Regions from separate parts of the Homo sapiens genome. Here regions 1, 2, 3, 4 and 6 are each reported to be linked to region 5. The links are microRNA targets in miRTarBase. Many come from high-throughput screens and were not tested one by one. Region 5 holds a microRNA gene; each other region holds the end of a gene's coding sequence.

Region 1 (5,148 bases), not on the chromosome of region 5:
GAGTTTCATTGTGTCTGTCACATTTTTTTAAAGTAATTTGATTTTATCTAAAAATAAAACTTAATGTAATGGTTTAGGGGGAAGAAAAAGTTGCTGTACTGTAAAGCTTACAGATTTGTAGAAGTTTTCTTTAGAGGGGTGAAGTGGGTCTTTTATATTAAAAAATGCTAGACTTGTGTCTAACAGGTTTTTATAAAGGTGTTTCTTTGGTCTTGTTTTGATTATTTCATTGTCTGCCACCTAGTTTTCTTTGCAAGTTGATATATGCAGAGTGTCAGAGAATAAAATAATGATTTTTTTAAACTGCTCTTTAACATTTAAAAGATGAGTCTGCCAAAAGGAAGACCTTAACTATTTTCTAGTCTAGTACTTCATTAGTTGGCAGTTAAACATCTTATTTTTAATTTCCATTTTATATCACTAAGACAAATAGTATTTTTCTTCTTTTCTATATTAAGAATTCAACATCACTATTAGAATTGCATCATATATAATGGGCATAATTTTCTTTTCTAGGATGCTGAGTATCTACATGGATACATTAAATATATTTATGCGAGTTGCAACTATGCTGGCAACTGGAGGCAACAGAAAGAAATGAAGTGACTCAGCTTCTGGCTTCTCTGCTACATCAAATATCTTGTTTAATGGGGCAGATATGCATTAAATAGTTTGTACAAGCAGCTTTCGTTGAAGTTTAGAAGATAAGAAACATGTCATCATATTTAAATGTTCCGGTAATGTGATGCCTCAGGTCTGCCTTTTTTTCTGGAGAATAAATGCAGTAATCCTCTCCCAAATAAGCACACACATTTTCAATTCTCATGTTTGAGTGATTTTAAAATGTTTTGGTGAATGTGAAAACTAAAGTTTGTGTCATGAGAATGTAAGTCTTTTTTCTACTTTAAAATTTAGTAGGTTCACTGAGTAACTAAAATTTAGCAAACCTGTGTTTGCATATTTTTTTGGAGTGCAGAATATTGTAATTAATGTCATAAGTGATTTGGAGCTTTGGTAAAGGGACCAGAGAGAAGGAGTCACCTGCAGTCTTTTGTTTTTTTAAATACTTAGAACTTAGCACTTGTGTTATTGATTAGTGAGGAGCCAGTAAGAAACATCTGGGTATTTGGAAACAAGTGGTCATTGTTACATTCATCTGCTGAACTTAACAAAACTGTTCATCCTGAAACAGGCACAGGTGATGCATTCTCCTGCTGTTGCTTCTCAGTGCTCTCTTTCCAATATAGATGTGGTCATGTTTGACTTGTACAGAATGTTAATCATACAGAGAATCCTTGATGGAATTATATATGTGTGTTTTACTTTTGAATGTTACAAAAGGAAATAACTTTAAAACTATTCTCAAGAGAAAATATTCAAAGCATGAAATATGTTGCTTTTTCCAGAATACAAACAGTATACTCATGATTGCTAAGTGTTTTTTTATTTTTGCATATTTATTGAACTGTCTAATTGAATACAGCTTGCTCTTGTCACCTCTTCAAGCTTTCAAGCCTTTATAGAAAAGCTTCTTTGTGGCTTACACTGGAAATTATGAAAGCAGTTTTTCTCCTAAGACTTTTGGTTTCTCGCATTGCCTCTCAGACTAAGCACTAAAAAGCAAAGCAAAACAGAACTAGTTCTGTCTTAATGAAATATATCAACCCAAAAGTGTAATGAGGAAAATGCTTCATTAGTTTCCCCTAGCAGACTTTTACTTCTCTTACACTGCTACACCATTACTTTCTTGAGACATTTGTAAGTTCTTTGATACAGAAGAGTTATATTTAGAAGTCTTTAATGAAGGGAAAGAAGTCTGTATGATGACTGAGGTGATTGCTCTTTTTGACAAATGTTTATTACAGTAATGCAGAAATACTGTTAATCATCTCAAAGTACATAGGAGGCTTATTTCTGAAACAAAGGTTTCAGCCAGATGTTGATTAGTCTAATTTTTCCAAGTGAATCATATGCATGCCATTTGAATAGGGATTTCTTCAAGAAAGCAACTTAGTTTCTTGCCAGTATAGTATAGTGCAGTGTGATAAGTACATGATACTTGTAGCTAGACTACCTCTATTTGAATCTCAACTCTTATTTCTTATGTGACCTTGGGCAAATTACTTAACCTCTGTGTGCCCAGTTTCCTCTCCTGTAAAATGAATATATTGGAACCTGTCTTATAGGTTTATGGTTAAACGTGCAGGCACTTAGTAAGCATTACATAAGTCTTAGCTATTGATGCTTTTTTTTATTAGTAAAAATGTAAATGCCAATTTTCTATTTTTCTTCTCCCCATCCTGATACCCATATCAGTGTGATCTTAAAGTGCCTGTTTTCCTTAGTCACCTTTTAGAACCCAAAGTTTATGTCTTTTTTAAATTAATATCACACACAAAATGATATCATTTCAGTGATGGTATCAGGCAGTTTATCTAGAAAACCAAGGATTTTTTTACTGTTTTACTTTTTTTTTAAATAGAGGGGTTCAGTTTGGTCTTAAATTGGATTCAAACAATCCACTCACCTTGGCCTTCCTAAGTGTCGGCATTACTAGCTTGAGCCACTGCCCCCATCCTGGGTTGTTTTGTTGTTGTTGTTGTCGTTGTTGTTAATTTAATGACATTATGTTATTGGACTTCTTCTGACTTTGCTAAGACAATGAAGGCTATGCAAAATAATATATAAAATGTGGCCGGGTGCGGTGGCTCACGCCTGTAATCCCAGCACTTTGGGAGGCCGAGGCAGGCAGATCATGAGGTCAAGAGATGGAGACCATCCTGGCCAACATGGTGAAACCCTGTCTCTACTAAAAATACAAAAATTAGCTGGGCATGGTGGTGTGCATCTGTAGTCCCAGGTACTTGAGAGGCTGAGGCGGGAGAATCGCTTGAGACAAGGAGGCGGAGGTTGCTGTGAGCCAAGATCGCGCCACTGCACTCCAGCCTGGCAACAGAGCAAGACTCCGTCTCAAAAAGATAAATAAATAAATAACATATAAAAGGTAAGCTGATATATAAAATGTGATCGTTTGTAAAACATACCAGTTGTAAATGGTAATAGAAAAAAATCACTAGTTTCTTGGCTCTTAACATACCACAGAGTTTTTGTTTTTTTTTTTCCTCATTCACAGCGAAGAGTAATGACCTGCAAAGTGATAGGCTTTAGGTAAAAAAGTAAATGTCCATTTTTCATTTTCTGACATCGTCTGAAATACTAGAGGATAAATGAAACATGTTTTAAAATAATCCCGAGAAAAAAGGCCCTTTGAGTTGTTGCTTAAAATGGCATCTACTGAACAGTCAGAAAACATGAATTTTTTATGTAACAGGTGCCATGCTAGCTGGGCCCAGGGGAGACAATGATGAATAAAAGTAATTGCCTTCTAAAGCATATCAAATCCGTGTAAACACGGCCATAGGCCATTGGATGAGTGTCACAGAAAGGTAAGCAAAATGGAAATGCAGACTGAATAATAAGTTTCTAAGATGGCCCAGGAGGAAATTTTCAAGAGTAAGCATAGTAGGTAAAGCACACAGAAAAAGGTAGTATGGGCATTTCATACAATGGATGCTTGATGGGGGAGGGCTGCAGGGAGAGATGGACAAAGTGGAAAAAGATGGTAAGAAATGGAAATTCTCTTGAAGCTGGATTTCCCACTTGCTGCGGGTGTGTGCTTTGCTTAACATGTTAAAACCTGCAGGCGTGGTGGCTCATGCCTGTAATCCCAACACTTCGGGAGGCTGAGGCAGGAGGATTGCTTGAGCCCAGGAGTTCAAGACCACTCTGCACAACAAAAAAACCCATCTCTACCAAAAATTTAAAAATCAGCAGGGTGCAGTGGCGCATGCCTGTAGTCCCAGCTACTCAGGAGGATTGCTTAAGTCTAGCATTTCGAAGCTGCGATTGTGCCACTGCACTCCTGCTGGGCAAAAAAAAAAAAAAAAAACTAGGAAGACAGGCAGGCATGTTTACCTTGAAATTGTATCTGGGTAACGTGTCCAGGTTAAAGGTACTAAAACTGAGTGATACCCAAGACATATAATTCCAGTGGGGTAGGGTGGCCCAGCTACACTAGTAATAGCTGATGTTTGAATTGAACTCTTTGCCCAAAGTTTGATCTTTGCACAAGGTCATATGGCTGGGAAGAATAATGAGACAAACTCCCTAACCAATTATGCCGGGAGGATAGATGATAGATCTAAAATCGTGTAGGACACAGCCATATAAAAGAAAGCAAGCTTGTCCTTATAGAGTTAGCTGGAGGCCATCATCCTGTTACAAACAACAAATTAACCCAGGAACAAAAAAACAAATGCCCCATGTTCTCACAAATGGGAACTAAACATTGGCTACTCATGGACATAAAGATGGTAATAATAGATACCTGGGATTCCTAGAGGAAGGAGTGGGGCAAGGGTTGAAAACCTATTGGACACTGTGCTCGGTATCTGGGTGATGGGATCATTGGTACTCCAAACCTCAGCATCACGCAGTATACACAAGTAACAACCTGCACATGTATTCCATGAATCCAAAGTAAAAGTTGAAGAAGTAGAATTTTGCTTGAGAATCACAAAAGCACTATACAAATTAAATAGGTTGAGATTCTATTAAAGTGTAAGTCACTTTTAAAATCTTGGGAATCAGTATTCTGAGTAAATTAAAGGAAATAGAACAGGAACATTTTAGTTTTCTGTGAAAAAAAAATTGACCTCAGTGAAGGATACTGGAAATCATCGTGCCTTCCTCACATCTATTTCTTACGGTACAAAATAGTCCTTTTTTGTATTGCCCAGTTCACTCCGAGCTACAAATCAAAATTGACCATTTTTTAAGGTCAATTTCATCAATAAGATGAAATCCTAAATGCATTCCATTTTTAACTAGCACAAAATGGAAATGACTTTTCAGGAATAGATTAGAAAGCTATGACCTTGAGGACTTTCCACCTTTAAAGTAAGATTCTTTTGTGAAGCAATTCAGGAAGATGGACGGTGAACATTCAATTCATTAACATCTGAGAACCATGAAGAGAGTATTTTTTGCCACAAGCAAAAATGAACCTAAATAAAAGACTGGTGGGGGAGGAGAATCATAACGACCATTATGGCCCGCATCTTATGGGCTGCTGCGCAGTTAGCATGA
Region 2 (5,148 bases), not on the chromosome of region 5:
GAAAAACTGGGACTTGAAGTGCAGGCTTGCAACTTCCTAGCAGTGGCACCATGGATGGCCATTTAGAGAGGCATGTCATTCAGTGCCAAAAACATGGAGTTCTGAAGGCACATCAACCTGGGCTTGAATACTGGCTCTGCCACCAAAGCCATTTACTGACAGCCTTCATGCCTTTTCACACGAGTGGTGGAACTGTGTGATCACAGTGCACCTTCTAATGCATTAGTCTACAAAGACTTTATAGAAAAAATGGAAAGAAGAAAAGCTTCCATTCACCCGATGAACAGAAAGAATTTGGATCTATGGCGGTTTTTACCAGGGCTGAGTCTTCCAACGAAGCCTGCATCTCCATCCTTTGATACACATGAGCAGGGCCCCCCGCATGCTAAGGTCCACGGCCCACCCCACCCCTACAGTCTTTTGTTAATGAGCCATGAGCAAACCATACACAGAAAGCAGCTTCTTTTTTCTTCAATTTAATTGAAGTTACTTAGAAAAATAATCAGGCTTGAATGGCTTTTCCTGGAGGAAGGTTCATGAACATTTTCACGCTTTTGTTGGCAATGTGGAATTCAGCTTTCTTTAACAGTACAGCAAGATACAGGGAGCGTTTTCTACAACAGGCTCTCTACTGCATACAAATATGTGAAAAAAGAAAATCACACTCCACAAAGATGTGACATTACATGTCCATATGCCATACTGAGCATGCTCATAAGAAAGTAGTATGGGCAGCTCCTTCTGGACCTAACAAAGTGTAGCAGACTGAAATTTGCCTGTTATCAGCCAAGGGTTAAGCGGATTCTAGAAGGCCTTGTTGCCTGTAGGGTTCTAACTGGTTGTGATGGAAAAAGGTTGGAGGAAATGCTGGTGGTGGGAACTCGGGGGAGTGATGTGGTCAGTCCTGCTGACATAGAGGTGGGCAAGGAAGGGATTTGGTCACTGGGATTGCACAGAATGGCGCAGCTGAGATTGTGTGTGTGTGTGTGTGTGTGTGTGTGTGTGTGTGTAGGGGAGGACTGGCTAGGAAAGCAAGCAGAGTGCCTCTGCTTCTTCTGCCAACTCTATCTCAGCACTGATCCAGACCCCACCAGCCAAGCATTTGTGGGACCCGCACACTTTGCTCTGGAGCTTTCTAGTAGCCTGGATTAATCGACCCCTGTGCTTCATGCCTTTGCCACCAGGAGAACCAGTGCAACTGAAGTTTCCACTGCCTGCTGCTCTCCTGTGGCATCCACATCCTGAATAGGCAGGAGGGTGCAGCCCACCTGGTGCACAGGGAGGAGGAGGAACGTCCCCTCTGAGATACCACAGGTCAGCAGACCACCTCTTCCCAGACCAGCTGGGGAGGGCAGGGAGGCGGGGTCTGGAGGAGCTGCGGGAATCATCTAGAGCTTTCCAACCAAAGGGATAAAGTAAGCAGGAATGTCCTTGCAAATACTGCCCTGGCTGTACCTGGTCTTTAAAACACAGCAGCACCTTTGAGAAGTGGCTGGGAGATGGGACGCCTGCCTGTACTTTTCTCCAGCTAAGCATGCATAGAAAGCAGTTTCAAATATTCCTCTTTAAAAAACACAAACTTTCATTTTCCAGGCACACTTCACAAGTGGATTTCTTTAACCAAGGACACAGAATACTTTCTACATTCTGCAAAAACAGTTGAATCCATTTTTTTTAAAGTTTCAATGCCATTAGAAAAGAAAATGTGAACACAAAGCAAAACACGGGGAGAAAGAGTCCCTCATTCCAGAAACCTATTGATGTCATGTCCCCTGAAGGACAATCTTTCTCACTTAAGAGAGAGAAGCCAGATGAAAGGCCATCTTCACATGACAGTGAGCAGGCTTGCACAACTGACCAAAGACGGACACAGAAATGCAAAGCAACGTGAATTTCCATTGAAAACCCCCCAAAAAGCACACAGTGAACGATTCCAAACTATGAAACTGAAGAAGCACTCATCAAGAGATCATCTGTTCCCACTGAGCATCCTTTTGAGCCTGAGGAGTAGGGAGCCACCCTGGGCCCTATACCCCACTCACCCTCTCCTCTCTTCCTTCTGTCCACACCACCCAAGACTTCCTCCACTCCCTCTGGGAGGGATAGAATTGTAGTCCGTGGCAGTATCCAGGATTAGAACCATTGCTTCATTAAATAAAGTACCTCTGTTGCTATAAACCAGATGGAGACTGTGGTGCTATTTTGTATTTTTTTTTTAATGGAAGGGTGTTGGGGTGGCAGTTTTTATCCTTGAAGACCTCAGATATGCTAAGTCAACCTAAGCAAAGTATACTCGGTGGAACCCTAGCTCTGTGGGGTGATCTGCAAAATAGAGTATCCTGGTCATGTAAGTTCAGGAAATGCTACAGACTCAAGGATTATTTTTGGGGATTCACCATGCACAGCACACATTGAAGGCTGAAAAGTCCTTGCAGAAAGGAAACTGACTTAACTTTGTTTCTTAAGGATATTTGACCACAAAACCCTTAGTCTGCATCACACCAACCTGATGCCTCCTGGAACCTGTGTTCTGTAGAATGCGTATTAGAAAATGTTGGACAACCTGTTTCATTATCAGAAGTCCCATTTCTGAGGACAGTGTTCTCTGCCTGGAAATAAGGTCCAGATTCTCAATTCCAGGGACAGCCAAGGTCTGTCACTCTACCCAGTAAAACACATTGCGTAAATCTCCATCCATCAAGGGTATAGTTGCTGCGCCCTTCACAAAGGGGAGAGAGCTCGGAAGAAGGTACACAACGTTTTATAAATAGCTTCAGCTACCTTCTCCGGCCCACATCTCACTCACGTTAAATAAAATAATTTCCCCGGTGAGATGTTGCAGCTGCTGCCCACTGAGCTTGCTGTGAGCTTTACAATACAATCTTAATAGTTTCTGTGAATAAATTATTCAATTTTTGTTTGTTTAGAATATCCTCACCCCTTCACTATATACGGCATCAAAAACAAAACAAAAGGCAAAACTTACCCACACCCCATCCCACCCTCCCCTATTATTAAAACTATTATTATTATTATATACAGTAGCTGCTACCAACTCATTCACTAGCTGTAAGAGGGATGTGGCTCAAACTTCAACTGAGAAGCATCAGCAATGGCTGGAAATGAGAAGCATGTTTAGATGTTAATTAGCAAGGAACAGGAAATGAAAAGTTTCCAGGCTTCCAGAGGAAATGGGGCATGGATTATGGAAGGCTGTCCTTGCTGCTCATGCATGGCAGTTACCAAGATGCTGATAGTCTTTCAGCCTCTGGAGGACGTGAGAGGGTGTGCATGTGTGTATGTGTACAAATAGTCCACCTCTGACCTTCATGAGGGGTAAAAACCATTGCAAATCCCCAAGTGTACGAGTCTCACCTTGGCATTTCACACTTGTACGTGGCAAGCAGTAGAAGACAACACTTCTACATGGGGATGTGGTGCTAGGCTGAATGGAGATGACAGTAGGAGGCACTTGAGGAGTGTTCCCCTTTCCTCACCCAAGGCAGACATTGCTAATCAACCACAGCACTCTTCCACACTGTGCCTGGAGAATCCATTCTGGGGCTTAAAGGCAGACATTACCCATCAGTTGGAGCAGGCACATGATAGGACACATTTTTTTAGCATCTTTTCTGTTGGTCAGTGAGCTTGGGATCACTCACGAATATAAAGTGGCCTGCTCCGAATGTGAGGTTTTCAAATATGGGCCATAGAAAAATGTAAATTTGTAGGGGTCATGGACCTTCTGCTGTTGCTCATGAATAGTCCAAACCTCATGTCAAGTCCATGAATAATATCAGGGGTTTGCTAATTGTCGAGCTGGATGCTCTATGTCACATAAAGCTTTTTGAGGGCCAAGACTATTGGGTTTGTTCAACGCTCTATCTTCAGGGCCTAGTATATAGTAGATGCTCAATAAATATTTGTCGAATATAAAGCAATAGCCACTTCACCTTCACTGCAACTGGCACCGCCAGTTTAAAATTCCTGTTAAAAAAGCCTATTCTATCAGATTGCTAATTCTGGTGAAAAATTGTTACAACCAACTTTCTCCTTGGGTTAAAAAAAAATCACATTTCTTTAGTGCAAGGGACTTTCAGGTCGATTGGAATTGGTTTGGAATGAGTCCCTTGCAAAGATGACTCTAAGTGCAATAGCAACCTACTTATTTCTAGCAGAAATTCAAGAATGGTGGCATCCATACACATGACAATGGCTGTTATCACATGACTCCATGAGAGGTTAGTAAGGAGAACATTCATGCCCCCAAATGAGCTGTAGCAAGCAAAGCAGGAATCATAGATTTCTTCTGGAAAGATGTTAGAATTTTGCTGCCACAAAAAGAAATAATGAGACCATGTTTAAATAACTATAAATAATATTAATTAGAATTTATGGAATGCACAATTCATGGAATTCACCAGAACACAAGAAACCTTTGAGACAGTGTTGCAGTATTCACTTCTACAGACAAGGACGACCCATCCTATTTCCCCTGCAAAGACAGCTGTCCTTCCCTACGAAGGATTTTAAATAATTCTCACTATGCTGCTCGCAGCATCATCCCCAAAGAAATATTAATTTACAAAATAACCCAATATCCATATAATTCTTTTGACAAATAAAAATCTTAAATTAAAAAGCATGATTCTCTCCCTCTCCCCACCCCCTTTATTCCAATTTCAGGTAGCTTGGCACTGAGTAATTGAACATTAAAAAATCGAGTTTGTAGACTTCGTACAGCTGCGTTTGGTGCTCTGAGCTGATGTTCTGGAAGAATTCTGTGGTCATTTCATCAGTAGTTCTCGTAGACTTTGCATAGGTGGGGAACTTCAGGTAGCTGCCCACTCCTGCCAGCTGCAGGACGTAATTAGAATCCTCTTCCAGTGTCTCGTACTTGCCCACGAGGTCATAGTGGATGTGGCAGGGATGGCAGAGTGAGTAGACGGTTTGCCAGTGTTCGTTGAAAGGCTCCTCCCGCTGGGTGTGTGGGTCGATGAGATAGGCCACAAACTCCTCGAATTTGACATCGTCCCCTTTGCGCAGGGCCTCCTGGGTGGCGTTCTTCCGCTGGCGTTTGATGATCTTGGTGCCGTACCGCTTGTGGAAGGAGATGTTGTACTTCTGGGTGAACTTGTTGCGGTAGGC
Region 3 (5,136 bases), not on the chromosome of region 5:
ACCCTGATTCTCTGTCCTCCCAGGGAAGTGACAGCGAGTACGAGGTCGACTCAAACCACCAGAAGGCCCACTCCTTTGTCAACCACTACATCAGTGACCCCACATACTACAACTCGTGGCGGCGACAGCAGAAGGGCATCTCGAGGGCACAGGCCTACAGCTACACGGAGAGCGACTCGGGTGAGCCAGACCACACCACCGTCACCAACAGCACCAGCACCCAGCAGGGCAGCCTCTTTCGGCCCAAGGCCAGTCGGACTCCAACGCCCCAGAACCCCCCTAACCCCCCAAGTCAGCAGAGCACCCTCTACCGTCCCCCCAGCAGCCTGGCCCCAGGCTCCCGGGCTCCCATAGCAGGATTTTCATCATTTGTTTGACATCAGAAGAGGAAAAAGCAGAAAGAGAAATGGCACCAAACTCCTCCTTCACCCCTCCTCTCACTGCCTGCCAGAAAACAAAAACACCAAGAAACCAAGTCAACTTTTCACCTCCTGAGTTTATTTTTCCAGAGATTCCAGGGCCAGCAAAGCCGGCGTTCAGAAGGAGGGAGAAAACCGTGAGAGGATGTGTGTGGCCAGCAGCTCTTCAGCTTTGAGATGGTGGGGTTCACTGCTCCCTTGGGAATTACACGGAGCTGGGGAAGTGGCTGTGTCACTGCTATGGACACGGAGTGGGGCGGGCATCTGGAGAGAGAGAGGGAGCGGAGGCTAAGGACTGGAGGCCGCCAGGCAGGCGTGGCCGAGGGAAGAAAAAGCTTCTGGATGTCCAGCCAGCTGCCCCCTTCCAGCCCCTCCAGGACCCCTGGACCCACTGCCGCTGCTCTCTGCAAAAAGAATGGGCATCCCGGAGGCCACGCCTATCTTCTCTCTCTGCTCCTCCTTCCCTCCATGCACCATCACTGTGGCTGGCAGGCATCGGACAGCCTCATCCAGACCCCCTGCCCTGTCTTGGCAACCTCTACTGCCCATCTCCCCTGCTCAACTTCTCCACCAAGCATTTGGTTTATTTAGAAAAAGGAAGAAAAACAAAAAACAAAAAACTAAAGGGTGAGAATTTGCTTAGCGCCTTCCTTGTTCCTGCATATTTTTTAAAATATTGAATCCAAGGAAGAGAGCCCAAGGGTAGGGGAGAAACCCCCCACAACTGACCCCTGCCTCCCTGTGCTGGAATTGACTTTCCTGAGCATGGACAAGGAAAGGTGAAGTCTGGGGAGCAGAGGTGTAAATAAGGCGACTGGCCTTGGCACTGTGGGATGATTAGGTTTAACGCATTGTGGGCAAGATAAGAATGACACTTTGACTGTTCTCTTTCTTCCAATCCAGGTTCCATCCGTCCTCTCTTTAAAGGGGTAGTCAGCTTCCCAAGGCTGGGGAGTGGGGCACAGCTGAGGGATCTCCCTCTGGGCAGACACGTCACTCTCCACTGGATAGATCCTCACCACACACACACACACACACACATCTCCCATGCACTTACAAGGAACAGGGTCTAGGGATCCTCTCCAGAACAAACTCATCTGGGCCCTCCTAGCCAGACAGCACACTCACTTTCAGATCTGTGTCCCTCTCACTGCCACCCGGCAGCCTCCTAAGCACAGAGGCACAGGAGCCCAGAGGGGTGGCCCAAGTCCCTGGTCCAGAGGCTGGAATACCCAGAGTTTGCTCAGTCAGCCTAGCACCCAGTTTACAGGCAAAAAGGCAAAGACACCCTAACCCCCAGTAACAGCTTCCAGGCTGGGCTCCGCCTGGCCAGGGCGGGGAGGGGAAGGGGCAGGTCAGGAAGCTCAGTCCAAAGTGGACCCAGCATTTGAATTGCACGCCCAGCAGGGGCAGGTCAGATGGGACCAAGTGACAAGAATAGCTGATGGGAGGGAATGCTTTTACACACACACACACACACACACACACACATACACATACACAATCTGCTCCAAGGAGTGTTCTGCAAAAAGCCACATCCAGTGGCCAGGATCTTCCCGTCCACTTGGTACTTACGGATGCCAGGGTTTAGGGAGAAGCCTTTCTATCTAACTCCATACATTGTCCAAGGCCCTCTGTGCCCTCAGCCAGCCCTGTAAGGCCAGCCCAACACCTGCCCCACCGCTGAGATGGGTGGCAGATGGCCCACAGGGGCCTGTCTGATTCAGCGTGAGCCCCTTCGTGGAGCAGGGCTCCCTCTGTGCACTGTGTACAGGCGCTGCTGGCCCTGCCCAAGAGATGATGCTCTGTTGGGGTGGGTGAGCAGAGTTCAAGGAAGCCCAAGTAGGAGATTTGGGAAACATGCCAAGGTAAGAGAGAGCCTGGACCACTCTCCTACAGCCCCAAGTCAGTCACTGTGCTAATGGTGACCGGGAAGGGAAGTCAGGGTCTGGGGCCCAAAGAACGGGCACACCCAGCCATGAGTTTTTCCTGAAGCACTTGACCCCTGGGAAATGTGAACGGGGAGATGCTGGAAGATGGCTCAGCAGACAGGCCAGCCCAGCTCCAGTGTCCAAAAAGCGGTTTCTCCAATAAGGAGGCCTGGGAAGGGAAGCACAATCTTCCCCAAAGGAGAACCAAGGGCTGAGGTTCTGCCCCTCCAGGAAGTAAGGTGCTCTCGGGGCCTCCTTGGACTTGTCTGGGGGCTGCAGTGGAGTCAGCTGGACACCTGCTCCACCCCTGCCACCTCCGCCCCCACCCTCTGCAGCATCTGGCATCTCCATGGCAGCACATCTGCAGCTGCCGGCCTGTGATCGTGCCGCACAGCTTTCTTTTCTTTCCTCTCATCTTTTTTTTTTTTTTTTTTTTAAATAACTTCATCCCTTTCCCTCTCTGCTGAGCATTTAACCATTTAAGGAAGTTCCCAGTTTGCATTAGGGAATTATTTAAGCCCAGCCCAGTGAGGGATTATTTGGGAGGAAGCAGGAGTGAGTAAAAACATTGTGTCTGTGTATATATTGCACATGAGGTCAATTTTCCTTTGCCTTTAATGAATCACCTGGTGCACTAAGATATTCCACCCCCCCACTCCCCACACGCTCATTCGCACCCATGCTGACACCTACGTGTACATGCGGGATGGTGCCCATGCACGCCTGTGCTTACACACATGCACACACAAATATGCACAGAACACACATCTGTATGTGTGTTAGCAAAGAGACTCCTGAACTCCCTCTGATGGCTGAAGCCATCTCTCCCCTGTGAGGCACAGGTGGCCTGGGTTGCTTGCACTTGGGGCGTGGCTGGGATCTATTGTCTGAGAGGGTGAGGACACCACGCAAATTTAGACAAGCCCATGAGATCAGGCTGGGCCCATGGTGAAAGTCCCACACTTAGTCAATACCCACTCATCTGGAATATTGTCTCCACAGCCCCAGCCACAGCTGGAAGCCCAGGCCTGCAGCTGTGGAACTCTAGATTTTTTCAGGACACGTCTCTTTGCCCTTGTTTACATATCTACTGGCACAGCCGAGGCTCCCAACCGTCCTCCCAGAAACCTGGCCACATTAGAAAGGGGTGGTGGGCCCTGCCCTTTGTAGAAAGAGTGGGACCCTTTCTGGCCTGTGATTTTCCGTGCCAGTGATGCCAGGGCCCCTGCCTGTGGGACTCCACCCAAAGCAGGTTCACACCAGGACACACCTGGCACCTTTGGCATTGCCTCCTTGTGCCCTAAGCAATCTCCCAGTGTTGCACCCAGGAGCCCATGCTGGGCACACCAGGGCTTTCCCCTTCCTGGCTGCGCCTCCAGAGTTGACGTCAGCTCCACACCCACACTGCCAAGACAAACCAAAAAGATGCTCTGGGCTCCAGAACCACCATCCTCCTAGGGCTCCAGAGAGTTTGCAAACCCAGGCTGCCTCCCCTTCTGTCCATCCCTCACCCCCCGGCCCCCAAAACTCCTACCCCCAAACCTGGCACTGCCGTGATTTAGAGGAAACAAGGACACAGCGGGGGCTGCCCCCACCTGGTGCACGCTGCCTCAAGGCCTTCTGTTGCTGCCCACGCCTCCCTGGGCAGTGCTTCTAAAGGTGCCAGAGCCTCACCACAGTGCCACTCTGGCTGGGCAGGGGCTTCCCTCAGCTTCCCAGAGTGCACATCTGAAGGTGCCTACCCTGGGTGAGGGGCTGGTGGGCAGGAAGGTAAAGGGGAGACCATCTGAGCAGCCGCCACCCGCTCCCCAGTGCCTCTGTATGGCCCTATCCAGGGACACCCATGGGCATGCGCACATGGCAATCCTGACCACCACCTGAGCACAGGTGCCCCCTCGGGACCACCCCCCTTCTCTTTGTTTCCATCAGAATAACCAAAAGCATTTAAACGTGTTACCTTTCTCCATCCATCTAGACTCCAGAAACAAAAATCAACACAAATCTTTATTTTTTGATTTAAAAGATATAACAAAAAATTATGGGGAGAGTATTCATTATGGCAGGTGTCTGTCTGTAAGAAAAAAATATATATCTCTATGTCATATAGCGTGTTAGCAGGTTTATTTTTTAAATGAAAGGTAAGAAAGAAATTGATTTGAAATATATACCACAAGAAGTCCCGTGTCCTGTCAAACTGTCAGTATTTTATAAATAAACTTTTTTTTTTGGAGATTTGAAGCAACATTCTTTTCCTTCCTGTTACATGAATGGGGTCACCTGTCCCAGTATCATACCCAAGCAGTTCATTCCCCAGACAGCAATTTTTAGCCATGCTGTGCTTTTGCAGAGAAGAGTCAAGGGTCTGACTTATCTGCTCTCTTAATGCATAAGTGAGTGCCTTCCAGTGAAATGCACTATTTTATTTATTTTAAACTTTTAGAATAAGAACCTACTTGATGCAATGTGCAAATTATAGTGAATAATAATAATAGCAATAGCTAATATGTCTATGGCATTCACTCTGTGCCAGGCACAGTTCTAATCACTTTACGTTTATTAACTCATGGAATCTTTGCGACAGTCCCAAGGAGGAAACCTGGGACAGGGAGACTTTAAGTGGCTTGCCCTCGGGGAGTGGTGGAGCCAGGATTTGTACTAAAGCCTTCTGGCTCTCAAAACATAATGCTGCCTCTCTGATATTTTAAGGCAAGCTCCTTGTCCATTTTTATTTTAATTTCTACAGAGCTAGCACCCCACTTCCCAGTGATCTTAATGCCATGAGAAAT
Region 4 (5,148 bases), not on the chromosome of region 5:
GAGCAGCCACCTTGTCAGACAGGAGAGGTGGCAATGGGGCCAGCCAGGCAAGGCTGCCCTAACCTTCACACTGGCTTCCACGGGCAAAGTAAGCCCCTCAGGGCTGAGCTTCCCCAGGCTCCCCGACGGCTTGCCCCGCCCATCCACACTCATGGAAAGGGGGCTCTGCTGGGCCAGGAATGGGCAGGGGCAGGGTAGTAGGGGACAGAGGCGGTGCTTGGGGGACAGGCAGCCACTGCAACCCCACTCCCTCTAGTCTCGTCTTCACACCCACCCACCCACCCACCCTTCTGGCTCCTCTTGTCATTCACAGCTTGGCTCCCTGTCCCCCCATCCCACACAGGATGCTCCCTGACCAGCCTTGCCCCTCCCCCATCACCCTATTTTAATTTTCTGCAAGGCGCCAGTCACTAGGGAGCATTGTGTCTTATCCCTTCCCTGCACTTAGGCCCCTTATAAGCTAGGACCTGTCACTGGTGTCCTTAATTCCTGATGCCATCCCGGCCTCAGCACTGTCACAACCGAGTTTGTCAGCTCTAGGTCTCCTTTCCTCTCCTTTCCGTCTCTGCACTTCTGTTCACCCCGCTGTTACATTTCCAGGAGGGAGTGGGGCAGGCGACCAACTTCCAGTTGAGAACATGGGTGACTCTCGGCCAGCCTGATACTCCCCACTGCTGCTGCCCCAGCTGCCTCCCGGGGACGATCCAGGCCTGGCCTTCCCAAGCAGGTCTCTTTACTCCCACCCTCCTCGCTCCCCTGACAGCCCTTTTCCCAGACCTACCCAGACACGGGCTCCCCAGCCTGGACACAGGCTGCTCCCACAGGCCTCCTGCACTGCCTCAGGAGGGGAGCCCAGGTGAGGGATTCTTTGGTGGGCAGAGAGAGACTCTTCCTGCCGCGGGGAAAAGCAAGGCCGGGACCCGTGACGAGGTTTCCCCACCAACCAGGCTTTCTTGCCTTCATGCCAGACCTCTGTGTTTTGCTACTGGAAGGCCATAAGCTCCAACAGAGGGTTAGCTGCACCTGCTGTGCCCTCCCAGGAAGGAGCAGACCCATTGTGCTACTTCCCAGAAACAGCTTCAGAGGAGATTCTCCAACAGAGGCAGGCAAGCCCAGGTGTGACCTTGTTCCGGCCCAAGGCAGGAGGCCTCCCCGCAGAGGTCCAGGGCGTGGCACCCACACATCCCTCGCTCCACCGGGCCTCCATCTCCCCTCCCTCCCTGTGGCCCCCCCTGCCCTCTTTTCCTGGTGTCTGCCCTGCTGGCCTGCCCCAGACCACAGCCCAGCTCCACCATGCTCATCATCATCACAAACCCAGACCTTGGATGGCAACATTTTGTGAATACTTCCCTCCCGCCTGGGAAAAACTCATCCTGAGCAGGACGTGGGACACAGATGCAGGCCAGCCTCCGGGTGGGCTCTCCCCAAGCTGAGCAGTTGGGGCTCTGGCCTGGCTGGGAGGCCAGAGACCCGAGTCTTAGACCCCGCTCTGCCTCACAAAGAACCACATGAACTGGGTCTTCAAGGCCAGTTCCCCTCCTGGATCATCAGAGTCCTGCTCTTTGGAAGGGCCCCTGTCCCTGCAGTCAGAGAGTCTGAGGTTTCCTAAATATCTTCACGCAGAAAGGATGGGGAAATGGCAAGCGCAGGCCCCTAACTCCTGCTGCTGGGAACCCTCCCTGGGGCCCAGCCCAGGCGTGCTCCTTCTTCCCACGGGTTCCTTTCTCAAAGCCCCCACCCTCTCCCTGAAGCCCCCCACGAAGCCCCAAGCTCCTGGCCTCCTACACTCAGCAGTGTGACTGATCCTCCACCCCAGCTGGCCAGCCAATTCACCAGGCCCGTCTGGGAGCCCTGACTTCCTCATCTACAAAACGGGAACAAGCGGGACGGACAGACAGTCCCTTCCACCGGGACAAGAGCCCTTGAGGAGGCTTCCCTGGGGCTGCCCTCCCTGGCATGGAGGAGGGGAAGGAACTGGGGACAAGGGAGGTGGCAGTGGAGAGAGGGAGGGAGGAAGGGAGGTGGCACATGGGCCCAATGCTCAGAAACACAGGAGGTGGGTGTGGGGCAGGGCTGTGTCTTGGTGGCACCTGTTTTGGGTCTGTTTTTGCAGAGCTGACCCCTCCCTGGGTTTCAAGAGCTGCTCGTCAGATCACAACAGACAGAATGTGGGAAAGCAGGGCATCAGAGAGGGGGCGGGGGAGTCTGGACAAACTGGCACATACACGACAGATGTTTGCTCAGAAAAATACAGTAAAATCGTCATGCAAATATAACAGGGAGTCTGCTTCCTCACACCCCTGGCTTCTCTGCCTGCTTGCTTTTCTCAGTTGTGCCAAGGGGGTGTGAGGAGGGGTTGGGGGGCAGGTTTTGGGGGCCGGGGGAGGAGGTCTGCTCCGCGTATCCATGCCGCCCCCTCCCCTCCTCGCCCCAGGAGAACAGTCTTTTCTTTGCAAATGTCACCCTCAAAGTGAGCCCTGGGCTTCGTTAACCCCAAAGTTGGTGTGAGAGAGGTACTCAGCTGAGCCCGAGCCTCCTAGCCCTCTGCTGTCCTCCCTCACCCCCTGCCCCCAGCAGGAAGGTCGTTGGGGTCCCCAGGGGATGGCACTAGCTTTCCTGGTCAGAGCCCCTGCCCACCAACAGTGCCGGTCTTGGACCCATTCCAGTGCCTACCCTCGCCCCTCAGTCACACTCCCCAAATCTCAGGAAACCCATGTGGGCCACAGGCCCTAGACTGGGGGTCTCTGGCAGGGGCGTGGGGAGAGCCGGGGCCCCCCAAGCTGAGGTGGGTGGCAGCCAAGCGACATGTTGCTAGGCGGGCAAAGCTGCTAGTAGAGGCGTCCCCACACCCCGCTGGGCCAGCTCCCACCCAGAGGTGAAGGATGATGGACTCCGGCCCATCAGCATCCTGACTGGTCAAGACCCCAGTCTCAGGACCGCAGATTTGCCTCCCAAAAGAGCTGGCCCCAGGAGCTGCTGCCAGGCTGGCCCTCCCTCACCACCCTCTGCCACCGCCTACATGGACAGAGAACCCCAGAGCCCAACGGTCACTCTGGGCACCAACTGCCAGGCACAGGGTTACCATGGTGACAGAGGCTGGCTGGGAGGGGCTGGGGCGCCACGAACCCAGCCTGCTCCTCAACCCTCTCTCGGGTGGGGGCCTCACTGTTTGTGCTTTGTTTGATGTTGGGTGGGGGGGTCAGAAAGAGGGAAGTGGCCATTGCCACGGAAACATGGGAGCCCCTCTGGCCAGGGGGCCAGGCCTGGATGAGCAGCCCAGAGGGGATGGGTGAGAAAGCCCTCCTTCCCCGGGTGGGCGGCTGAGATAGGAGCCGAGATCCCACGATGGGGTCGGGCAGGTGGGGACACAGGCCATGGGGACAGGCAGGAAGTCCCCCATGACAGCTCCTCCCTGCAGCCCTCCAGGCATCACAGTGCACCGCTGCCCTTCTGCGGTGGGCAGGGGTCTCGGAGGACCAGAGAAGCTGGGGCCGGGAGCCTGCACCTGAGACGTCCTGGGAGCTGGCCTGCCCGCCACACGCCCCACTCTTCCCAGGCCACGTGGAAGACACTTGAAGTGGGCTGGTGGAATGTCGCCCTGCCTCGGCTCCTTTCCCGTCAACAGGACCCTCTCCCTTCTCCCGGGTGCCGGCATAGGGGTCAAAAGCCCCCCAGGATTCTGAATCACAGCTGCACACTCTGGGGGCACTGCCATGTGGCTTTCTAGGAAGAAAAAGCACCTGCCTGATTCCCAAGTCCCTCAGCCCCAAGGGACCACAGCTTCGGAAAGGGATGTGGGGTGGGCACAGGGCGGGCAGGGGTCCACAAGAGAGCTGCAGGGGGTTCCGGGACAGCACTGGGCTGGGAAGTTGGGGGACTTGAGGCTAAGCTGCTGTGTGACCCTGGGGTTGTCAACTCCCTTCTCTGGGCCTCAGTTTCCCCCCCTCTCTAAAGTGGAAGGAGACATTGCCCGATGTCTAATGCTAAATCTGCAGGTGACTTGACTCCCAGCTTGGGAAGGGACCCTCTCCCTGCCCTAGAGGGGCTTCAGTCCCTCTCTACTCCAGCTTTCTTGACCCCCACACCTGTTTCTAGCCCCAGACCCCCCAGACCCCACACCCTCTCTTGGCTTCCTTCCTCCCCCCGCCAGCCCCCCGGCCCTGCACACCCCAGCAGAGTCCCTGGGCAGCACAGTAAAGACGACTGGTTTCGGTATCAGTTTGTAAACTTTAAGGAAAATGTGTCTCTGTTTTCCTGTCCGTTATTGTCGGATGTTGGTTTGTTCACAGTCGGGTGGTGGTCAGGTGTGTGTGTGCGTGCGTGCGTGCGGGTCTGCATGTGCGTCCTCTCCTGGGCCTTGGCCCCCGAGTCTGCTCCCCGCCCTGGCCGCCTGGACCCTTCCCCCAAAAGGCCCCCAGCCCTCTGGCTCCGACCTCACCAGGGAGGAAGGGGGGGGTCACAGCTTCTGCTGGGCGGAGACCCCCTTCCAGTAATCAAGGATGTCATGCAGATCCTCGTCCTTGGCGAACTGGACCTTCTTGCGCAGGGCGTGACCGGCGGCCATGTACACCTCCTCCCGGTGGTGCTTCTTGTAGGGCCGGAAGCGCTCCCAGATCTTGTGCGTGCTCTCGGATGAGTACTCGGGGCTGGAGGAGTACCCTGAGTAGTAGTGTCTGGGGGAGAGCTGCGAGTAGGTGGAGTCACGCTTGGAGCGGGTCAGCGGCTTGAGGAAGGACACGCGCTGGCTCAGGCTGTCGGCACCCTCCTCGTAGTACAGGGCGGGAAAGCTGTGCCGGTGCTCGCTGCAGTGGTAGGCCGGCTTCACCTCCAGGTGGTGGATGCCCCCGCCCCCGCCGCTGCCCCCGCCGCTGCCCGCCGGCACCAGCGGGAGCCGGTCCAGCGGGCTGTTGAGGGGGCTGCCCTTCTCGATGTACTTGGAGTCGCCCTTAGCCAGCCCTGTGGCGGCCGGATGGTCGGGCACGTCCAGGCTAAAGACCTTGGCGCTCTTGATGGAACCACTGGACGACACGCTGCAGGTCTTGCGGGTCACGGCCGCGTCGGCGCTCAGCTGGCGCTGTAGTGGGTGGTGGGAGCTCTCCTTGTAGGGAGGCGAAAGGAAGCTGGGCCGCTCCAGGGCCCCGGGGCCAG
Region 5 (5,148 bases):
GGGTCAGAGGCTCAGGGACCCCAGGAGAGTGCTGGGCTGGTTGGAGGAGAAAGAGGTCCAGCAGAGAAATGACCTCAGAGTGAGGAAAGGCAGTAGGAGGGGTCGGGCAGGGAGCCCGAGGCATCTGCCTGGCACTTCCCTAGACCATCTGCACTTCTGCTTCCAGAAATCATACAAAGTGGCCCCTGTGACCTGAGAGTGGGAGACCAGGTCTGTTCTGACCTGGGGCTCCGGGGGCAAGTGCAGTCAGAATTTCTATCCCTGCCTCAGCCGACTGGCTTAGGAAAAGGCTTCCAGAGAAGCCCCTCATTTCCCAGCTGGAGTGACACTCAGTGGGTCTTGAGCTTTAAATTCCCCCTGGTGTCTCAGAGGGCCTTGGGTCCTGTGGCATGGCTCCTGGCAGCCTGGCTGGTTTAATTTTGTTCCGGATTCTCCTGCCTCTGGGGCTAGAATTTTCACTTGATCAGTTGACTAACAAGTACCCGGCCATGCAAAGAGAACTGTGAGATACTGGTCTCCACCCTGAGCTTCATCTCCCACCTGCAACGTGGGGCTGTTGAAACCTACCTGCTCACTTTGGAGGCGTGTCAGGGGGACACCAGAGGGATGCGCTTGGGCAGCCTCTCTCCTTGACCATCCTGTGCCAGCCCTGGGGTACAGGTGAGAGTGCGAGACCATTGGCCCCTACCCACAGGGAGTTCCCAGGCCTGTACGTGGGATCCAGAGGCAGGGATAGGGGGATAAAGTCTGGCTTGGGGGATCCGCAAATCTCCCCCGCTCCCGGCCACCAATCTCATAAAGCATGAGGCTGTGGATCGTAATAGAGAATAGGGTGAGAGGAGGACTCTTACCCAGACCCCCAAACTCCCAGACACATCAGAGAATTCACTGTAGAAAGTAGAGAGAAGACTGTCGAAAGTAAATCTTCATAAACTGCTTTCTACACGGAGAAACCCGTCTGAACATAAAACGATAGAAGAACGAGAAATAGAAGTGAAAATGAAAAACCACCCAGCGTGTGAAGGCAAAATGTGCAGGCCTGTGCCCGGGGAAACTGATGGCCACAAATACAGCATGGAAAGTATTAACAAGCTTAATATATAGCAATTTTTAAAAGGCACTAAAACCTTCACAGGAAAGTAAAAGAACATGAAGCAGTAATTTGTGTTGGATTATGATGGATAATAATCATATAAAAAGTTTCATTCTCACTAGTAATAGAAAAAAAGGCAAACAAAATCAAGAGCGTGTAAAAGATCTTCCATCTTGATAGACACATCCCTGGGGTGTGACGCAGCCTCACACGCGAGGGTGACGACTAAATCTCTCCGGAGAGTCATCTCACTCCAAGAGGGATCCGCGCCCGTAATATGTCCCAACCCTCTGCTGCCGTGAAATCACTCACCGCTTCTTGGAATCTCTTCTAAGGAAATAAGCAGAGATGCAGACAAAGATTTTTATAAACAGAAGGTCACTTTCATTTTATTTTAAATGGTAAAAAAAAAAAAAAGTAGTATTTTAAAAGTTTTTTCCCCTCTCAGGAATTTTGAATGGAGACTTTGGAGCCAAATGTCTATCTAAAAATAGAACATTCTGGAAATAACAGTTGTGTCTACAGAAGAAATGTCTGCAGCTCCCAAATCAGTCCTTTTTCAGCTCCAGCTGCACACATCAATAAGAAATTAGCAACGATGTAAATACCCGAGAGTAAGGAGGTAGATAAATAAAAGATGAGGAGGCTTCCTTGAGTTGAAATATTTTGCAGCCATTAAAAACGAAGTTTATGGAGTTTTAATGACGTGGGAAAGTGCTTCTGATGTGAGGTTAAATGAAAAAAAAAACAGTATGAAAATCTGTATTTTAGTACCACTGCGACTGTGTAAATATACAAACCCATACAAAAAGAGCTGAAAGGGAAAACACCAAATGGTAACGGTGTCTATCTCCAGCTAGTGGAACCGTGGGGGGGGGGTGTCTTTTCTTCTTTATTTATATTTTGTATGTTCTTGAATTTTTCTACAAAGATCACCAATTACTTTCAGAAAATAGAATATACCCATCCTGCTCCCCACCACAAAATCGTGTGGGTCTCTGAATAGAAGAGACAGCAGAAAGGCCAAGAAGAGGGGAACATGAGCCAGGGTGGTCACGGCATGGGGCGGGGGGTTGACAAAGTTGGCGTCAGACCCCCAGGGGCCTTGAATGCCAAGCCCAAGAGCTTGAACTTCACCCAGAGCCCTATCTTCTGCCCATGTTCAAAGAGGACAGAGTGCCCCTTCTTGACAGTTAGGGGCTTCCAGGGGTAGATACAGGTGGGAGAGCAGGGTATTGTGGAAGCTCCAGGTGCCAACCACCTGCCTCTATTCCCCACTCTCCCCAGGGAAGAGTTTCACCCTGACCATCACTGTGTTCACCAACCCCACCCAAGTGGCGACCTACCACCGAGCCATCAAGGTGACCGTGGACGGACCCCGGGAGCCCAGACGTAAGTGCCACCGAGCCCCCTGAGCCCCTGCGCGGGGGAGGAGGGTCCAGTGCGGGAAGGACAGCAGCTAGGTCAGACAGATGGAGCCCTCCTCGGGGGGTTGCAGTCCTTGGCTCTGTGCCCCCACACACTGCGTGCCTGCTGGCAAACCCCTAAACCCTCTGGGCTTAGCCTGAGACCGTGGGAGGCCAGCGAGGAGGCTGGGAGTGGAGATGACTGTCCATGGAGACTACTGAGGGAGTCAAGGAAAGGAAAAGGATGGAGAAAGCTTTCAGATATGGCATTTGTCGGGTGCTTGTGTGTTTCTGGGTGGAGGTTGAGCCAGGCTTGCTTTACTCTGCCCCCAGCTTCTCTGCGGGTGGCTGAGGGATGCATGGAGGGCAGGAGTGATCAAAAGTCAGGGGCTGGTCTGGCTGTGAGGCCAGGCCTCTTCCTTGGAAACTGAGTCTTTGAATCTTAGCATGTGACTTGCTCAGGTCACCCAGAGTCCGGGCACCCAGACCCTATGAGCAGGGAGTTCTGGTCCATCAAAGCGAGTTTGTGTTTAATTCTCTCTGCTTGCTGAAGGTCAGATTAAGGCTGGGGAAGTGGGAGGGTAGGCTGAGGCTCTGTGTCCACAGAATGAATGAATGACTGACTGACTGACTGACTGAATGAATGAATGAATGAATGAAATAGAGCCAGCCAGCTTCCTGAGCTCCATCCCACCTCCCCAAGGCATTTTCAGCTTGGTGCACTGAAGGTTGGCCCACCCCTCTCTTTCTCAGAAATGTGACCCTTTGTAGTTTAGAAGACCTTTTAGCAGTCACTATTGAATGGGATCTTGATGACAGCAGAGCCAGAGGGGTCACCCAAGTTCCAGTGAGGAGAGAATCCAGGCCTGAGGGAGTTGGGTACCTGAATAGGACCTAATGCTGTGCAAGGAGCAGGAAGGCGCCCCAGGCTTCAGTCTTCCCAGAGGCAAGATTCTAGGCTGAGCAGGCCTGGGGCAGGAGGCCTGGGGCAGGAGGCCTAGCCCTGGGCTGGCCCCTCCCTTCTTGGGAGTCAGCTGGGCCTGACACCCCATCATCCAATTCCTGGGCCCATCCCAGCATCTGGCCACTTGGGAAAGGCTTGGAGCTGAGTCCAGCAGCCCTGGAAGAGTTTCCCTCCAGGGCTCTCAGGGTCACCTCTGCCAGCCCTGAGCCCCGGCACGCATCCTCAGGCCTGCACCGTCAGCTCCCAGCCAGCACTTGCCCTGGCCACACTCCTGCTGGTTCCCTCCTGCTGAGATCAGACATAGACCAGCCCATGCCCTTGGCCTTGGGCTTCATGACCCTAGGCAAGTCATGTCTTCTTTGTGGCCTCAGTTTTGTCATCTGAGAACTGGATCAGTGACTCCAGGAGTCTCAAGGTGGTGATGGCTGGGAAGCCCTCATGAGCCATAGACCACCATGGTGTAGAGAGCAGTTTCCAAGCCAGCCTTCCTGGCTGTGGGTCCTTGGGCTAGTCATCTCCGTGCCTCAGTTTCCTGAACTGAAAAATGATATTCGCACAAGCAGCTACCTCATGATGCTATTGCGAGGAAACAGTGGCTTAATCTATAGAAAGCACTTAGCGGTGGGGGTTAGCAAGGGATCCGTCACTTTAGCCAGGGCTGTTATCTGCAGTGTGACCTAGGGCAAGTCACTGACCTCTCTGGGCCTCAGCTCCCTCCTCCATGAAGTGTGATGATGCCACCCACCCTGCGGACCTGGAGATCAGGGGCGACATGTGGACAGCACGTGGCCGTAGCACAGAGGGGTCCCATGAGTCACTGGGTCCGCAGCGTTTTGTCGTCCTCAGTACCCAGCCCCCTTCCTGCACTCCCACCACCACCATTAGTCAACGGTGAGCTCTCTCATGGGCAGCAGCTGGGTGGCTGCCTTGGTAATAGAGGTGCAGGTATCAAGTCTCCATTGAAGGAGGTGGCAGCCCTGCCCTATGTCTCCAGGGGCAGGGTCAGCATGGACAGGAGCCTCAGTTGGGCTCTGGGTGGGGATGCGGCACTCAGAAGCCACTCCAGAAAGAGGGGAGCCACTCCAGAAAGAGGGAGGCACGGGACGGGGTCTTGACGCTTGGTGGGAAGATCCAAGGGACCGGGCAAGGTTGGCCCCTCTGAGAGCCCTCCATGCTCAGCCCAGCCCACCCCAGAGCCGCCCACTCTGCCCTGCTGGGACCCCTGGATGAGCATGGAGACTCAGCCCTGCCTGTGGGAGATTCCAGCAGAATCCCCTGCCTGCTCTTCCCTGCCTGGGTCTCCCAGACCTGAGATGGCCCCTTCTGGGGTGAGCTGGAAGGTAAATGCGTGGCTCAGGACGAGGCAACAAGAGGGAGGGACAGAGGCTGGGCCTGGAGACCCACGGCGTCAGAAGCCAGGCTTGCTGCACCACCTGAGACAGGTGACCTCCCTCTCTGGGCCCCGGCAGCGGCTGGATCAGTGGTTTTATTTACAGAACAGAGCAGAGATGGAGTCGGGGGGCAGTCTACTAGGTCCCCCATCCTTAGGACCTGCCTGTTCCTGTCCCTGGCATATCCTGGCCCTGAGATCAGGTCCCCCCCCATACCCTGGGTTGCAGCCCCACTCCTTTGTCTTTGGCCCTGGACAAATCCTTGGCCTTTCGGGTCCTCAGCGTCCCCATCTG
Region 6 (5,000 bases), not on the chromosome of region 5:
CAAGATGCAACTAGGAAGAGACACACCTGACCAGCCCCTCCCCCCAGGCTCAGGTGGGAGTTCAAACTGCTCCTCCCCTCCCCCATCTAGAGTCTAGACAGACGGCACAGGCCTAGGAGACTAGGAGGGAATCTGGAGGGGGCGCTGGAGGAGTGCGAAACGGGGGAAGGGAGCCGGCAGAATAGAGGGCATCCCGGTACTGGCTGGAGTCTGTGTTCGAGGGTCGACTAGGGGAGGGGGTCCTGGGCCCGGTGACCGCAGGCCTCAGCATCTCCACTCTGCGTAACAGGTTCCTCCTTTGGGCCCAGCGGCCGGCGAGGCCGCCAGACATACACACGTTACCAGACGCTGGAGCTGGAGAAGGAGTTTCACTACAATCGCTACCTGACGCGGCGGCGGCGCATCGAGATCGCGCACGCCCTGTGCCTGACGGAGAGGCAGATCAAGATATGGTTCCAGAACCGACGCATGAAGTGGAAAAAGGAGAGCAAACTGCTCAGCGCGTCTCAGCTCAGTGCCGAGGAGGAGGAAGAAAAACAGGCCGAGTGAAGGTGCTGGAAAGGGAGGGAGGACGCGAGGGGAAAGGCCTGTGGGGAGCCGAGGGCGTCAGAGAGACCCGGGAAGGAAGGCTCTCGGGTGGGGGAGCCAGGAGACCTGCTCTCCGGCGCAGACAGGCGGGGCCCAGCGCTCTCCTGGACGCCCCCGCCCGCACAGCTCCCGGCGGGTGCTCTGAGGCCTCACTACTCGAGCCCACCCAGCATCCCGCGCGCCCTTCCTTCCCGAGGAACTCGCCTCAGCCTGATCAGGCTTCCTGGTGAGAACTGAGGAGCGGACTCACTTGATGTTTCCTGGAAGCAGAGCAAAATGCTCTTGTCCCTGTCGCGTCTCATTTTGTCCATGTCCCCCGTGCACGGTTCAATGGTAGATTCGCTGTCCCCTCAGCGGGGGCCTTGAAGACTCCCTGATCCCAGACCTGTCGTCTCTCCCACCCCCTCCCCAAAGCCACTGGAAGGAGCACATACTACCTAGAAGTAAGAAGAGGAGCCTCAGAAGAAAACAAAGTTCTATTTTATTAATTTTCTATGTGTTGTGTTTGTAGTCTTGTCTTAGCTCTGGACGTGAAATACTTCGATGATGATGATGATGATGATGATGATAATAATAATAATAATAACAACAACAACAACAATAATAAAGATGTGAAAACTCGACGCTCGGTCACCTCCAATCCTCCCCTGCCATTTTTTCCTCTCTCCTCAACCCCCAGCCTCTCCATCTTTCCTGAGCCAGAATTCTTCAGCAAAGGCGAGAGCCCTGGCCCGCCGAAGCGAGCCCTGTTCGACTGGGAAGTTACAGCTGAGATAAAGGCTGGAGCGATCAGTCCTGCCCAGGCCCCAGCGCTGCGTTTCCCTGGTGCTGAGGCTCACAGCCGCTTCTCCCCGTGCAGACTTGGGGGATGGAGAGGTGCTGTGTCCCTCTCATTCTCTAGCCTTTCCTCGTGTATACACAGCACTAAGGGAGCCACTGAGGCCCCTAAAGCTCTCTGGCGGAGACGGAGCCATAGTCTGGGGGCCTCTGCAGCGCTTTTCTGTCCTCACCTTCGCAGCGACCCCTGGTCTTTGGCCCGTCCACATGGCCAGGTTTTTTCGCCAGCCTTGGCCCTCCGCTCCTGGCCTGTGGCTCTGGAGACTGAAAAATGGGGCCACTGGGTATCTCTCACCCTGCAGCTGAAGGCTCCAGGTGCCCCTTCCCACCTCAAGTAGCAGATCAGCCTCAAGTAGGAGATCAGCCTCAAGTAGGGGAATGTAAAGCCACCAGCCAGGCACAGGCCGAAGGCCACAACTTTCCCTTGCTCCTTGGAGACCCCAGGGCAGGAGGCCAGGTGATGGGGCTTTTAGTGTCATCCTCTCAACCCAGAATGGCTCATTCTCTCTCTGCTTGCACCGGCACCCAGAAGGCAAGCTGCGGTCACTGTTTTCCTTTATTCCTCCGCCCTCTCGCTTCCTTTCTTATTTTTAAAGAAAATAGTCCCCTCCTAATAGGAGACCAGCTGCGGCGGTCTCTGGCCGCCCAGCGTGCTCAGCAAAGCATGCGGGTCCTTGGAACCCCTTTTCCGGGAAGGCGGCTGCCACCAGGCAAATTCTCAAACTGCCTAGCTGCGAGTGAGGGACCTGTAGTGGGGCCTCCGAATGCAATAGCCGAGGAGGAGGGGAAGGGATCCCGCTTTACAAACTCTCAGACACATGTTACTACTCAAACTAAGCAGCAGACGCGGTGGCCGCTGCAGTCTTTTCGGCAACTAGGCCGCTTAGCCCCAGCTGTGCTCGGTTTCTGGGGTCCCTGTCCTGCTCTGTCACTCCCCACGCCTGGGCTAAGGACCACCAAGGAGGTCCGGAAGGGGATTTCGAACTTCCAAGTGGCCCAGGAGAAGTGAACGCTTCTCCTTCTTTTTCAAGCCTCCCGCCCAGCCCTGCCGGCTCGGCCTGGGCGCTGTGGACCGGTAACAGCAGTTCCACCAGGATGCAGGCCGGACTAAGCTCCTGGGGAAAACCCGTTGCAATAATTGTTTTTCACACACAACTTCCAACCCTTCCCCCATTTCCGCCTCCAATTCGGAGACTTGCAAAGCCCAAGAAAGGGAAAAGCAACTCTATCTTTGATCTTCTCATCCAAAGTTAAAATAATAACGACAATGATGATGTAGGGAGAAAGAACCAAATAGAGAGGCTAACCCCACCCACAAGAAAGTGGGTAAAAAGCCCAACCCCTGCTCTAAAAGGCTCAACCCTGTGGCTGAGCCTTGGCCGGGTTTCTTTCTCTCCCGGCGACTGCAGGGAGCCTGCAGGGAGCCAGCAGGGAGGCAGCCGCCCGCCGCCATGGCGGTCTCACGCCCGCGCTCCCGTCGGTCGCCGGGAGGTGGCGCGCTCTGCTCAGAGGCCAAAGCCAACCTTCTCTCTGTTTCTCCCCCTTCTCCTTTTTTCCCCCTCTCTCGGAGGCTCGCATTGAATCGGCCCTAACGATTCTCGGATCGTCATTATTTGTAACCATAGAGCATGAATTACCTCTTGAGGTCATCAGCGAGAATTTACGACTGGTCAACAAAAGCACGTGATTCCCTAACGCCCCCCACCCCCCTTCCAACCCCCCCCCCATATTTGGCCGCATACATAGCAAAACGAAGTACAGTGCATCGCTATAATTCATTAATACATCATAAATCGTGAAGCACAGGGTTATAACGACCACGATCCACAAATCAAGCCCTCCAAAATCACCCAAATGAGCTCGTACTTTGTAAACTCCTTCTCGGGGCGTTATCCAAATGGCCCGGACTATCAGTTGCTAAATTATGGCAGTGGCAGCTCTCTGAGCGGCTCTTACAGGGATCCCGCTGCCATGCACACCGGCTCTTACGGCTACAATTACAATGGGATGGACCTCAGCGTCAACCGCTCCTCGGCCTCCTCCAGCCACTTTGGGGCGGTGGGCGAGAGCTCGCGCGCCTTCCCCGCGCCCGCCCAGGAGCCCCGCTTCAGGCAAGCGGCTTCGAGCTGCTCCCTGTCCTCGCCCGAGTCCCTGCCCTGCACCAACGGCGACAGCCACGGCGCCAAGCCCTCTGCTTCGTCCCCCTCCGACCAGGCGACCTCAGCCAGCTCCAGCGCCAATTTCACCGAAATAGACGAGGCCAGCGCGTCCTCGGAGCCTGAGGAAGCGGCAAGCCAGCTAAGCAGCCCCAGCCTAGCTCGGGCGCAGCCAGAGCCCATGGCCACCTCCACAGCCGCGCCCGAGGGGCAGACTCCGCAAATATTCCCCTGGATGAGGAAGCTTCACATCAGCCATGGTAATTCTCTCTCTCTTTTTTGTCTTCTCGGCTTTCCTTCTCTGCGTTTTGGGGTGGGATCGGGGGGACAAGGAGAGCTTGGCTTTACCCTAAATATAGATTCATTTTTCTAAGGGGGAGAAGTATCTAAGAGGGGCCTCATAGCTTCGTAGACAGAGCCAAAAAGGGTCTCTCTGTTAAGAGGGGGGTATTTTTAATAATTTGTTTCCAGCTTCGGCTTAGGTTTTTATTAGCGCAGCTGAACCAGCTTTAGGATAAAGGATGGGGTTCATATAATGTGGGGAAGGGTCCTGCTTACCCCTGAAATTTTGAGACTGTCGCTAGCAAAGAAGGGGTGAACAGTAAAAGGAGCTTTCCGGGGCAAAAGTGCAACCGCTCTCCTCCCTCCCGGGGCGAGCGGCCGCCTGAGCCCAGCCAAGGGTGAGGCACTAGGAGCGAGCAAGAGACAAAGCCGGGCGCACTGGCTGCCTGCAGAAGTGGGGGATGCAGTAGAAAGGGGTGCAGAAATCGAGCTTGAATGTGGGCATCTGGAGTAGAGAGGATTGGAGCTGTGGTGAGCTGGGTGCCGGGACGCCTGGGTCCTGCTCCCCCGCCCCCTCCCACCCAGTGCCCCCTCCCTTAACCGGAATAATGTTGCCTTGCGGCTTTCCTCTATCTGCTCCAGATATGACCGGGCCGGACGGGAAAAGGGCCCGGACCGCGTATACCCGCTACCAGACCCTGGAGCTGGAAAAGGAGTTCCACTTCAACCGCTACCTGACCCGGCGACGGCGCATCGAGATCGCCCACGCACTCTGCCTGTCCGAGCGCCAGATCAAGATCTGGTTCCAGAACCGGCGCATGAAGTGGAAGAAGGACAACAAATTGAAAAGTATGAGCCTGGCTACAGCTGGCAGCGCCTTCCAGCCCTGAGCCCGCCCAGAGGAGCCCAGCGGCCCAAGAGCCCGTGCCACCCCCAGCCCTGGCCCCTCCAATCCTCCCCGCTCTGCCGCCGCCCGCTGGGGACCGGTTCCCACAAGCCTGCCTCGCCTTGTGTTACGATATTTCGTTTGGTCTTAGGTCTTCCTGTGGCTCCCTCTCTCCTGGACTGGTTATCTTGTTATTATTGTTAATAATAATTATTATTATTATTTTCCTTCCATGCTCCCAACTCCCTTCT

What was found. Region 5 holds the annotated microRNA hsa-miR-6731-5p (UGGGAGAGCAGGGUAUUGUGGA, at 2,314-2,335, shown strand). A microRNA usually pairs through its seed, bases 2 to 8, with sites in the 3' UTR of a target mRNA and lowers its output. Matches are read on the target gene's strand: a 7mer-m8 pairs with bases 2 to 8, a 7mer-A1 pairs with bases 2 to 7 and ends in A, and an 8mer does both.
Region 1: the mRNA of GHITM is a reported target of hsa-miR-6731-5p. Seed matches in the 3' UTR shown: 8mer at 791-798.
Region 2: miRTarBase lists CHST11 as a target of hsa-miR-6731-5p. Seed matches in the 3' UTR shown: 7mer-m8 at 2,730-2,736 and 7mer-A1 at 1,494-1,500.
Region 3: the mRNA of SDK2 is a reported target of hsa-miR-6731-5p. Seed matches in the 3' UTR shown: 7mer-A1 at 1,461-1,467, 7mer-m8 at 3,173-3,179 and 7mer-A1 at 3,659-3,665.
Region 4: miRTarBase lists ELFN2 as a target of hsa-miR-6731-5p. Seed matches in the 3' UTR shown: 7mer-m8 at 2,759-2,765.
Region 6: the mRNA of HOXB6 is a reported target of hsa-miR-6731-5p. Seed matches in the 3' UTR shown: 8mer at 981-988.

The regions. Positions count from the first base shown.
Region 1 is chr10:84,151,748-84,156,895 of GRCh38, forward strand. GHITM (growth hormone inducible transmembrane protein) reads left to right here. Exons shown (of 9, transcript NM_014394.3): 9 at 517-1,821. The coding sequence ends at 601. Among named protein-coding and RNA genes, the nearest start is that of GHITM, 15 kb to the left of the region's middle. RefSeq lists an enhancer at 3,565-4,078.
Region 2 is chr12:104,757,327-104,762,474 of GRCh38, reverse strand. CHST11 (carbohydrate sulfotransferase 11) reads right to left here. Exons shown (of 3, transcript NM_018413.6): 3 at 461-5,148. The coding sequence ends at 4,672. Among named protein-coding and RNA genes, the nearest start is that of MIR3922, 170 kb to the right of the region's middle.
Region 3 is chr17:73,333,828-73,338,963 of GRCh38, reverse strand. It overlaps SDK2 (sidekick cell adhesion molecule 2), which reads left to right. Exons shown (of 45, transcript NM_001144952.2): 45 at 24-4,580. The coding sequence ends at 377. Among named protein-coding and RNA genes, the nearest start is that of CDC42EP4, 24 kb to the right of the region's middle. RefSeq lists an enhancer at 1,333-2,232.
Region 4 is chr22:37,368,616-37,373,763 of GRCh38, forward strand. It overlaps ELFN2 (extracellular leucine rich repeat and fibronectin type III domain containing 2), which reads right to left. Exons shown (of 3, transcript NM_052906.5): 3 at 1-5,148. The coding sequence ends at 4,457. Among named protein-coding and RNA genes, the nearest start is that of ELFN2, 56 kb to the right of the region's middle. RefSeq lists an enhancer at 1-389.
Region 5 is chr1:24,916,577-24,921,724 of GRCh38, reverse strand. MIR6731 (microRNA 6731) reads left to right here and starts at 2,309; the gene lies at 2,309-2,380. It overlaps RUNX3 (RUNX family transcription factor 3), which reads left to right. Exons shown (of 5, transcript NM_004350.3): 3 at 2,381-2,485.
Region 6 is chr17:48,591,962-48,596,961 of GRCh38, reverse strand. It overlaps HOXB6 (homeobox B6), which reads left to right. Exons shown (of 4, transcript NM_018952.5): 4 at 290-1,211. The coding sequence ends at 549. HOXB5 (homeobox B5) reads left to right here and starts at 3,183. Exons shown (of 2, transcript NM_002147.4): 1 at 3,183-3,841; 2 at 4,506-5,000. The coding sequence starts at 3,280. The coding sequence ends at 4,753. The region is part of intron 1 of HOXB-AS3 (HOXB cluster antisense RNA 3); the gene reads right to left. RefSeq lists enhancers at 299-468, 526-1,197, 2,240-2,745, 2,975-3,044, 2,746-3,253 and a silencer at 3,510-3,559.